2 separate regions of the Homo sapiens genome follow, and region 1 is linked to region 2. A link means that fine-mapping ties the variant in region 2 to the expression of a gene that starts in the linked region. Tissue or cell type: esophagus muscle. Region 2 holds a variant in brackets; the other region holds the start of a gene. All regions are shown on one strand. Distances are between the middles of the regions.

The links. PIP is the estimated chance that this variant, and not a neighbour inherited with it, causes the effect. A credible set is the group of variants that fine-mapping cannot tell apart.
Region 1: SLC5A7 starts here. The variant in region 2 is the best candidate, but not a certain one, in a credible set for the expression of SLC5A7 in esophagus muscle (GTEx, PIP 0.69).

What each region holds. Positions count from the first base shown.
Region 1 is chr2:107,984,175-107,989,401 of GRCh38, reverse strand. SLC5A7 (solute carrier family 5 member 7) reads right to left here and starts at 2,878. Exons shown (of 9, transcript NM_021815.5): 1 at 2,639-2,878; 2 at 1,069-1,297. The coding sequence starts at 1,246.
Region 2 is chr2:108,055,733-108,060,959 of GRCh38, reverse strand. No RefSeq gene overlaps it. Among named protein-coding and RNA genes, the nearest start is that of LINC01593, 5.6 kb to the right of the region's middle. The variant A/G (reference allele first, on the strand shown) is at 2,723.

The DNA.
Region 1 (5,227 bases), 72 kb after region 2:
AAGGGGTTCAGAACATGAATGGCCTCTCCCCAGACTGGTTTGGTAAACTATCTGATATACACGGTGAATCATTTTAAAATTGCCCTTCGGGACTGAAATTGGGCATCACTTGATATCATTTCCCATGGGATATTTTTCCAATGAACGCTCACAGTTCTTGCTATGTTGCAAATGTTTAAAAACTCTACTAAGACTGTATAATGAAATATGTGTTGTTAGTGCAACTGTATTAAATATTAAACATATAATTCTAAGTTGATGTTTTTCAGAATTATTTTCAACGACCAAGAAGAATATAAAAAAGAAACAAATCACCCTTTAAACAGAACCACTTTAGTGCAAAGTAAGAAAGAATATCAGCTCCTGCTAACACAAAGAAGGTTTGAATGAGAGATGACTGCAGATGGTGGCCTGGGGATTCCTATGAGGACACACCCTAGCTTTTCCCTTTTATAACAAGGTTCATGAAATCTCTTTATTAGTGCTGTGGACTCATAACATGTGATTGTCTTCCTGTGAGGAATTAGTTATTAAATGAAAGAATTAGGTTTCAAAACAGGGAATCACTCAATTGGGAATATCATCACCCCCAAATTTATTTATGCAGATTAAAAACCATCACTAGATGGTATTCATTGGCACTTATTTAAATCTCAAAGTCACAACTTTATGCATGTATTACCGGACACGTTGAGATGCTGCCTATCACATTAATTAGCAGATACATAGCTTGTAATACTAGGACAGCTTCCCATTCCCCCACCTCTTTGTTTTTACTCTGTTTCCACCCACTCAATAGCCCAGGGAGCCAAGATTTGTTTCATGACTGTTCAGTCCAGTGATTTATTATAAAATCATTTTTGTTCAAGTACTACTGAGTTGAAACCAATTTATTTTTAGGTTTTAAATCAATAGAAAATTATTTTAAAATATATATAACTAGTGAACATAAAGAATCCCCAAAGGACAAAGACCAACATTTGCTTTGTCACTCTGAAGCCACACGCTGCACACTCACAGATGCCAAGGAAGGGAGGACTGCATGGAGCCGGCGGCGTCTGAACGTACCTGTCATGGTAAATCCACCAACCAATAAACCAATATCTCGGCCACCAACTATGATGGCTTCGCTGCGCTCTTCTGCGCTGCCACTGTTTTTGGTTCTCCAGGCAGCCCATATTCCAACCAGCAAAATTAGAAGGTAGAACACGATGATAGCTATCAGTCCTTCCACATGGAAAGCCATTTTTATCTAATGATCCAGATTCTTCTGCAGCTGGCTACTTCATTAAGTCTTCTGAAGAAAATACAGGGATGCATTATAAACCAGTCAAGCACTATGCACATGTAGGCAGCCAGGAATAAACCAGCTGGCTCATGCGAGATCCTGTGCCACTCACAGAAAGAGTACAACCCTGAAACCACACGTGAAACGGGCAGTTAACAATAAGTGTCCACTACATTATCCTACTTCTATTTAACAATTTAACATTATTTTGAGTTTGCAAGAAACAGAAAAAAAAACGGAAATGTAGTTTAACAAATGGAATCATAATCCTTGTGTGTTTCATACATGCTTTAAATTTAAAATTAACCTTGTCGTGTATATCTTAACTCAGTAACTGTCAAATCATTTACAAAGAGTAGCGCTGTATCTGCGTTTTGGAACTAAGTTACTCTTCTAGAATTATTTATTCTAGAAGTGTTAAGTGTTTCATAAATGACCATTCTGAAAATTTTAAAATATTCATTAATTTATTCATTCTTTTATCTGTCCTTTCAAACAACTTCAGAGAATGGCTTCAGTAGTAATCTGATATAAAAATATCTGAAAAAAATCTTTAGAAAAATCCATTTCAAAAACACATCAAACTCCACATTTTCAACAAGCTTCTGTAGTTCAAGTTACTATAGCAACTAAGTATGTTTTTTGTTGTTGAAAGGATCCATTCTCTTGATCTTCTTCGCCCAATATCCTTCATTCAATTCATCACCCCCCATTAATGGTACATACAGGAAAAGGTTTTGTTGTTGTTGTTGCTGTTGTTTTAAACACAATTGCCTAAAAGCACATCAGAAGCCTCAAAGATATTAAAATCAAGACTCTTAGAAGACAGATGTCAAGTTCGAAAGCATTCACCTTCTGAAATTCTTGTCCCCTTTTATTTTTATTTTTATTTATTTTTTACCTTTGTGACCACAGCTGTTCCATGAACCCAAACTCTCACATACAAGTTTCTGGGGGAAACTCTGACATTTGTGCGTGCAGGTGGGTGAAGAGACGTTGGGGGAAAGAATCAGCCTCTCTGGAATTTAAAGGAGGCAAAAGAAGCGCCCGCGGGCTGTGTCTTCTCTGCCTTTGTGAGCAACCAAGCAGGCAAGTTCCTCTCCGCAGCAGCCCGATGCTCTCCCGGCCCCCTGCGGCCTTTCCTCGGCCCCCTCTACCCATTTCCTGCGCCCAGACTTTGTAGCCTCTTGCACCCTGACAGCAACGGTGCCAGACAGCAAACCCGCCCTCGCATCCCACCGAGAGGGAAAAACGCCGCGTCCCTCCCCTCTAAAACCGCCCGGGCTCGGTGCCCAAGGCGTTTCCGAGGGTGCGGGCCCGTAGGCGCAGGAATGCCCGCTCCGCTCCTACCTGGAGTGGTGGCTGCACGCGAAAGCGCTCCGCCCGGGGCCGCCGCCCCCTGGAACCGCGAGGGGTGTGGGTGCGAGGGTGCAGAAAGGGAGGGTGCGGGGTGGGTCGGGGTGCAGTGCGGAGCGGGGCCGGGCGGTCAGGGCGGCTCCTCACTCGGCGTCTCCAAGAACCTGGGAGCGCGCAGAGTTGACAGGTGTTGGCGCCGGCGGAGGGCGCGCGGCGCAGGGCGAGGTGGGAATCGATCGAGTATTGGGAAAAGTCCCCTTTATAAGGGCGGCAGGCGGGGGCGATCGTCAGACATCCGGAGGCGGACGTCAGAGGAGAGTGGTGCTAGGGCGTGTGCTAGGGACGCTGCCCTCGCGAGGAGGGTGGGTGTGCGGGATGCGAAGGAAACGGGGCCCAAGGAGCTGGGGGGCAGGCTGGGCTCTGGTCCGCGCTGCCAGCCATGGTATCCCCATCCTGAGACAAGTACCTGCTACTCCCATCTCCTCCTCCAGAAAACTGGGCGGAGATTCCTTAGGGTGATTCCCAGTCGAACTTCTCATCCCTCTGGTTGGAAGCTGGGAATGGGGAGGGTCTCAGAGGATTATATTTTCAGAAGCAGCAGCTGGAAGCCTAGAGGAGAGAAGTGTCCTGTTCTTTTCTTCCCAGGTCAGAGTCTGGAATTGTTTCCTGACGAGTCTCTCTGAGAGGGAAGGGGTCCTCTCCCGCGGCCTCCCCTGGGCCCTGTTGGAAGCTGTTCCTGGCGTCCCTGGTGATGGGCTCCCTGAAGGAGACATTTCAGGAAGGTTTAGAAAGTCCTTTTTACATTCATACCCCTGCCACTTAAAAGTAGGGCTACCATGAAGGACACTAGGCGTGGTCCAGATTAACAATGAGGTTATCACAGAAGTCAGACAAGATGGCTTTCCTGGTAGAGCCCTTTGGGCAGCTGGCCTGCTGAATATCCTATTCCAGCTTACAAAAATTTGCTGTGTTAGTTTACAATATATCCATATACCTACCTATTTTTATAGATTATTTATATATTACACATATAAATATGTATCTATAGATGTATTTCTACATCTAGGTGTACATGGATAGATGCAGATACCTGTGTGAATGTGAATGGAGGAAGAGAGAAGGGTGGGAGAGAATAAGATAGAAGAGTCACAAGCCACAAAGCTACAAGCACTCTGGCCACTTTCTCACTTCTTTCCGCATTCCACCATGAGAGTGTATTTAACAGTGAAATACACAAGTCTAATAAGGGATAGAATAAATAAGAGTGCCTCTGAACTACTGTTCACCTCTCTAGGCCAATCAGACCATCTCCCCTTTTCTTACACTGGATTTTGAAATTAACTTCCAAATTTATGTTACTACCCCTTTTCTTTCTTCTCTGTATAAACAATAACTGCATCCAACTACCTCTTTTGAGGTGAGAAAGCCTAGGGAGTTCAAACAGAAATTAAGACGGGCCAAAAGGCCTGCAAAGATAGTTATTTCCCCTGGGTAATATGACTAGTTCATTGATTTTCTGGAAAAGACTTAGGTTGCCTTTTAATATAACCCCATTTTTACATACACATTTTATTAATTTAAGCAATTTTAAGGAACTGACAGAGCGAAACAGAGATGGGATTTCATATAATTACCCATGTGTTTTAAAAGAGGTTCATTCATTCATTCATCCATCCATTCATTCATTGTTTTTGTCTTCTATAACTCATTTTCTGATTCTGGGCCTTAGCCTCAGGTTAACTGATGTATTTCCTGCCAGAATATACTAATGATGATGATGACACACAGCTTATTGCTGTAGCAGGGCAGGCATGGGCAATTGCAGTGTCTGAAATAGTGCACAGGCCTAAGGTCAGGGAGCTTGACTCAGATCCAAAGAGAGACTGAAGAGGCAGCCGTCCTCAGAGAACATCACCAGCCTTTCGGTATGAGAATTGGGAGTGCAGCCAAAGCACACCTCCCAGAGCCCACCTAATCCACTTTGACAAGCCAGGCTTGCCAGACTATGGACTCAGTGCCAGATCTGAGAATGGACAATGACCTTGACAGTGGCCAAATTCTTGCCTGGCAGAGCGGCTGTCCTCCATGACAAGAAACACCAGTTGAAAATGACAACTGCTGATGAATTGAGTCTAGTTCTGGGGAGACATTTCCTCATTTGCTGAGTCCTTTGCGCTCCGTGTCTGATCTAAGGATGAAGCTGCATGTGAATTTCTGTGCCAAGGTGTAATTTCCCAGACACCCATTTCTCTTTTGTCTTTAATATTGGTACTTTAATGTGTACCTCTTCCTCCACTCTCCTGAGAATATGTTATCATGCACGGACTTAGGGAACTACATGTCAGTGGGAGATCAATTCCCGCTTTTGGGGAGAAAAAGCAGGTTTTGCATTTATAAATCATTTATTTTTTAAAAACACATTTTCTAAGTGCCTTTTACATTCTGAACACTGTTCTCAGTACTGAGAATACATGTAGAAAATTATACAAACCTTGCCCTCAAGTAACTTATCCATGAAAAGAAAGAAGGAACAAACAAGCAAAAGCTGCACTTCTATATACTATTGTAAGTGCTGAGAAGGAT
Region 2 (5,227 bases):
AGACTACAGAAAATGGAAAAATGATAGGTGGCAAAGGTGTTACTTGAAAAAACGTCTTTTGTTTTTGTTGATTTTTTTTAAAAAAGTTGTTCCTGGCACAGTTAAACACACCCTTATATTCTCTCTCATTTAATTTGGACAGAAACCTTGCAAAGTAGATATTTTGATATTCACTTTTACAGATAAGGAAAATAAAGTACAAACAGTTAAACTGTCCAAGGTCACACTGCAAATTAAGATTAAAGCTCAGGTTTAATCCCAAGGTCTGTGATTTCTCACAGTGCTTTTGAGCTCTTAGAAGACATGGGACATCTGTCATCTGATGATTCTTTCTAGTCACCTTTTAGACTTTGTGCCAACCCTAATTTTAAAAATATAGTCTTCTGAGACTGCTTCTAGGTTGACCAGATGCTTACAGAGAAAATACTGTTGAAAGTTCCATTCTCCCTAGGTAAGGCCTGGCCTGTTACACCAATAATTTTACCTGAGTTCATATTTTAGTTGCAGTAAGTGGCTTAATGGGTGATATTCTTTGATGACATTTTCATGTTGACAGGTAGTTTTGGTAATCCCAAACAAAGTAGTTAGTCATGTGAAAATGTCATATAGCCAGTCAAGGCTTGTTTGGGAGATATATTTGGATACAGATGGGATTGAGCACAAGGCATTCTAAAATGAGAGCATTATGGGCAGTCTGAGAAGGAAAGCAAGCCAAATCCAAATAGGACAGGGCTTGGCCTGATGAACTGAATGGCAGCTGCACTATACAAAGGGGCATTCACCGAGGCTCTGTTTAGATAATTAATGATGGGATGATGGGGAAAATAGTATTTTCTTACTGGTAAGCAATATGGAGTCACCAGCACTTTCCTACAGCAGACAGTAGTTCAGGGGCATCAGATGGAGCAGTGGAACCTGTTTTCAGTCTCTAAGGTATTGCGGCGGAGGCTGCCCCTGATGATAACATTTTTTTGTGATGGTCAGGAGTGGCCTAGAGTTGGAGTAGGCTTGGGACTGCAGGTCATGACAATCCCATGGTAGAATTAACATACAATCCCAGGTAGCCTTATTGCTGGACATAGGATGGCCACTAATAACCTAGGTTGCTCCTCTGCTGCCAAGTGTGCTTCTCATTGCACCTAAATGAATAGAAGATGAACATGAATATCATATATTGAATAACCCTTTGACTTCTGTGTGCAGCCACCCCAAGTGAATACTTGAGTTTCTTCTAAAGTGGCATGGTTTGTTTCCTGGTTCTAAATTGTTCATTTATGTATACAGGTGTCAGTAGTGATTGTTCATTTAAGTATACAGGTGTCAGTAGTGGTGTGATATTTTATTGCCCTATTATAATTTTTTTCTCATCTAATCCTCCCAAGTGCAAGTACTTATCTGAATTGCCCTTGCTTCTTTCATACCTAGCAATTAACAAGTGCTTAAATATGAATTTTGAATAAATCCTGGGTCAGTCCTTCTCTCTTCAGAGTAGGACACCAGATAATATTGAAAGAAGCATGACATAACTAATGGTGTCTGTAAATGCAGCTTCCTGAGATTATTCTGTAGTATCTGACAATTAATGCGTATCTTTACATGTCAACTTCACTAAAGTGGTGGACCTCACATGTTAGTGTACATATAATTACCTGGAGAGATTGTTAAAACTCAAATTTACAGCACTGCCACCAGAGTTCCTGGTTCATTCATTCTGGAATGGGGCCTGAGAATTTGCACTTGTAACAAGTTCACAGGTGATGCTGTTACTGCTGGTCAGGAGACCACACTTTGACAATCACTGCGTTAGGAGTAATTTAAGCATGTGAGATAAATGAAACTTGAGGTTGAAAGCAAATGCTTCAAAATCTGACATATAACATTTTTGGGCTTCCTTTCTTAAGAAATTATGCATAGTGTCTTTGTTGTTCCATATGAAATAGATGACTTACCCTTTAGTAAAAGTCAGGGGTAGATGATTAATTGTTAACTCAGTCTGAAATGTAGTGTTATTAGCAAAAGCCTTCCTTACTCCTCACTAATGTGCACTTATGACAATTTCTTCTAGAGGTAATCAGATATAATGTATGACTAATATCAATTAAGTTATGGTTCTAGTTTAGGATAGGCAGCAGTGCATCAAACCAGAAGCAGTCTCTATTAATTCCATTGGGCAGCATTCAGTGGAGTAGGAGGCACTGGCTACGAATAGCTCCCTTGCTTTTCCTCCAGCCTCTTTGCCTCCCTGCACTACTATGTAACCATCTAAGTGATCTGAATTCCCACCAGCACCAAACGATCACATATTTAGAATAGGTGAGGCAAAGGCCCAGCCTGCGTTCATATAAAGTCAGAGTTAAACTTTAAGGAATGCAACTTCAACATCAGCAACTGCGCTAGTTAAGGAAGCACATAAATCCAAGATGTACAGACCATGGCCTTGAAATCACCGTGTCTTATTAAATAAGCAAAACAATTTTCACTGATCTCAATGACATTATTGAACTTTTATTGATGCTGGACATTCCTAGATACAGTTATCACCTACTTCCAAATTATGGAGTCAGAGCAAGTGCATTTTATTACCTTTTTCCTTGTGTTTCCAATTTCTGAAATTATTCCCTCTTCTGGGACCTTTAACTTGCCCTCGTGGCTTAGGTTGTAAATAACAAGTAATAAAATAAAAATGAGATCATGGACAATGAAAACATCTCGTGGTCTCTCA[A/G]GTCGGACACAGAAGTGCTTTTGAGTAATTGGCTAGAGTATAAATTCATAATTTGACTCTTGCCTAAAAGCTCTATTTAGCTTCAGTGTAGTTGCTAAGCCCACATGCTTTGTGACACGTTCTCACAGAATGAGAACATAATGTACATTTCTGGAATTTTTTCCAAATTACTTTTAATCTTGAATTTCAATATGCTATTGAAAAATGTAGCTTCAAAAGTTCTTATGCATTGACTCTTAGGCACGAGATAAGCCTTTTTTCATTGAACAAATTGTGCTGTATATTGGGGGAAGATTTCTAGTAGCTTGTCATTGGTGAATGTAATCTGTGCAAAATGTGCCCACTGTCTTTTCTAGAAAACCTCATAGCTTGTTATTTGAAAAACATAAGCAGATAGGTATGTCTTTGATTGTGTGATGTAGGACATTATACTTCTAATATCATCATCATTCTCAGCGAAATGGCAGTTTGTGAATGTCAGACAGGACACGTGAGGAAATCTATTAGTTACTGGAAATGTACTTTCTGCCTAATATTGTGCTGGGTTCCTCCACATATGCCATTTTATGTAATTCTTTCATTAACTGTATAAGATAATTACTTCAATTTCATCAATAAGAAAATTGAGGTTCAGAAAAATTAGTAAATTATATCAATTTACTAATTTATAATCCTCAATTATATCAATTTACAATCCTCAATTATAGCACAGGGTTAAGGCACTGGTTTCAAACTCAGGTGTTTTCAACTCCAAAGCTGACGTGCTTTCTGCTGTTGTTCTCATACTTGGCTGCATATTAGAACTACCTGGAAAGTTTCAAAACAAAGTACTAATTCCTAGGTTCTCCCCTTAAGTAATTTTAACTCATTTGGGTTGGGGTTGAGGCCTGGATATTGGCATTTTAACAAAATGCCTCATGTCCAAGTGGTTCTAATGTGCATTAGTTATTAGTTGAGACCCCTGGATGTCCTTTCTGCTTATAGCATTCCGTAACCCTTTAAGCTGGTGGAGAATTGCGAAAGGACGTAATTTTTCAGACATTTGAAAATGGGCTTGAGACAAAGGAGGTGGACACTTCTGTCCTTGGTAAAGCCACTCCACCTTAAAACAACTGGAAAAGGAGGGCTCATGGAAGACACATATTGCTAGAATCTGCATTATGAAGTGAAAAGTCAATGTTTTGCATTTTAGATCAAATTAACTGGAACATATGTATGGATTTAAAAAATATTTTCATATGGTTATCCTGAAAATAAATGAAACAATGTAATTGAATGAGCTGGTAGAGGACATCACACTGAAGTCAAACACAAGATACAATAGCTATAAACCACATAAATCTCCAAATATTAATGAATTATAGAAAATACACAAATGTAAATATTTTTTCCTATTGCATTCACTGATTTTTCTGAATCCTCTAATTGGTAACTGCTATTTTTAAAGAAAGGAATTGAAAATGTAGGAAAGCATAATATTTGAGTTGGTTAAGAATAAAACTAAAAAGTATGAGGATGCAGTAAGTCTCATCTTGTCTAAATGTTTTGGATCCACTTAAAATGAGGATATTGCAGTGAGTTATTTTAAAAGAACATCTTTTAAAGTTAAGAGTTTGTATTATTTTAGAAATGAAGAGATAATTATTCTGATCAACAAATGATCAAATCAACTAAACAACCCTTCCATCCCAGATTTTTGAAGCCAAAAAAAAGGAAGAATATTAAGACAAAAATTGGGAATGAAGGCAAAATAATGCTAATTTATTTAAATTAGTCAACTTTTTACTTTAGTTATGTAGTCAGTGACATCCTAGATTTAAACACCTTTTGAAATAAGATTTTTGAAATGCATCAAAGAAGCAGGGTGTGGTGGCACACACTTATAGTTCCAGCTATGTGGGAGGCTGAGGAGGGAGGATCACTTGAGCCCAGGAGTTCAAGAGTAGCCTGGGCAACATAGTGAGCTCCCCCTCTGAAGAGATACTATGTGATGACTAAAGCAGTGAGTGTGGTATGTGGACTTGAAAGTGAAAGGAGCAAGGTGAAGGTCAAAATTGAATTGGAGGAAAAAACATCTTATTAAATGAAGCTTGTGATTCCCTTCAGATTCAGCAGTTGGTCAGAACGTTGCATGCTCCGAATGCCAATTTTCCTCCCCCTCCCCAGCAATTTAATCCAGAAAGTAAAGAATTGGGATAAAATTATGGGTCCCAGGTTGAATGTGCTGTTATCATAATATGTGTAAGAAGGGAGACGAGATGATTTCCTTTAAAATTTGATTTTTATAAAATAGTTCAGATTATCTGAGATAACCTTTAATACCTTTTCCTGCTGAAAAACTCCTTGAAATTCTCTGAAATATAGCTCTGTTCATTATCTCTTTCAGAGAAGCTGCCCATATGGTCGTCACCTCATGGAATACACTCAAACCTTTTTATCACCACAGGCAAAATTCATGGGGAGTTGTACTTCTCTGATGACTGGAATACATTTGGAAAAACTTAA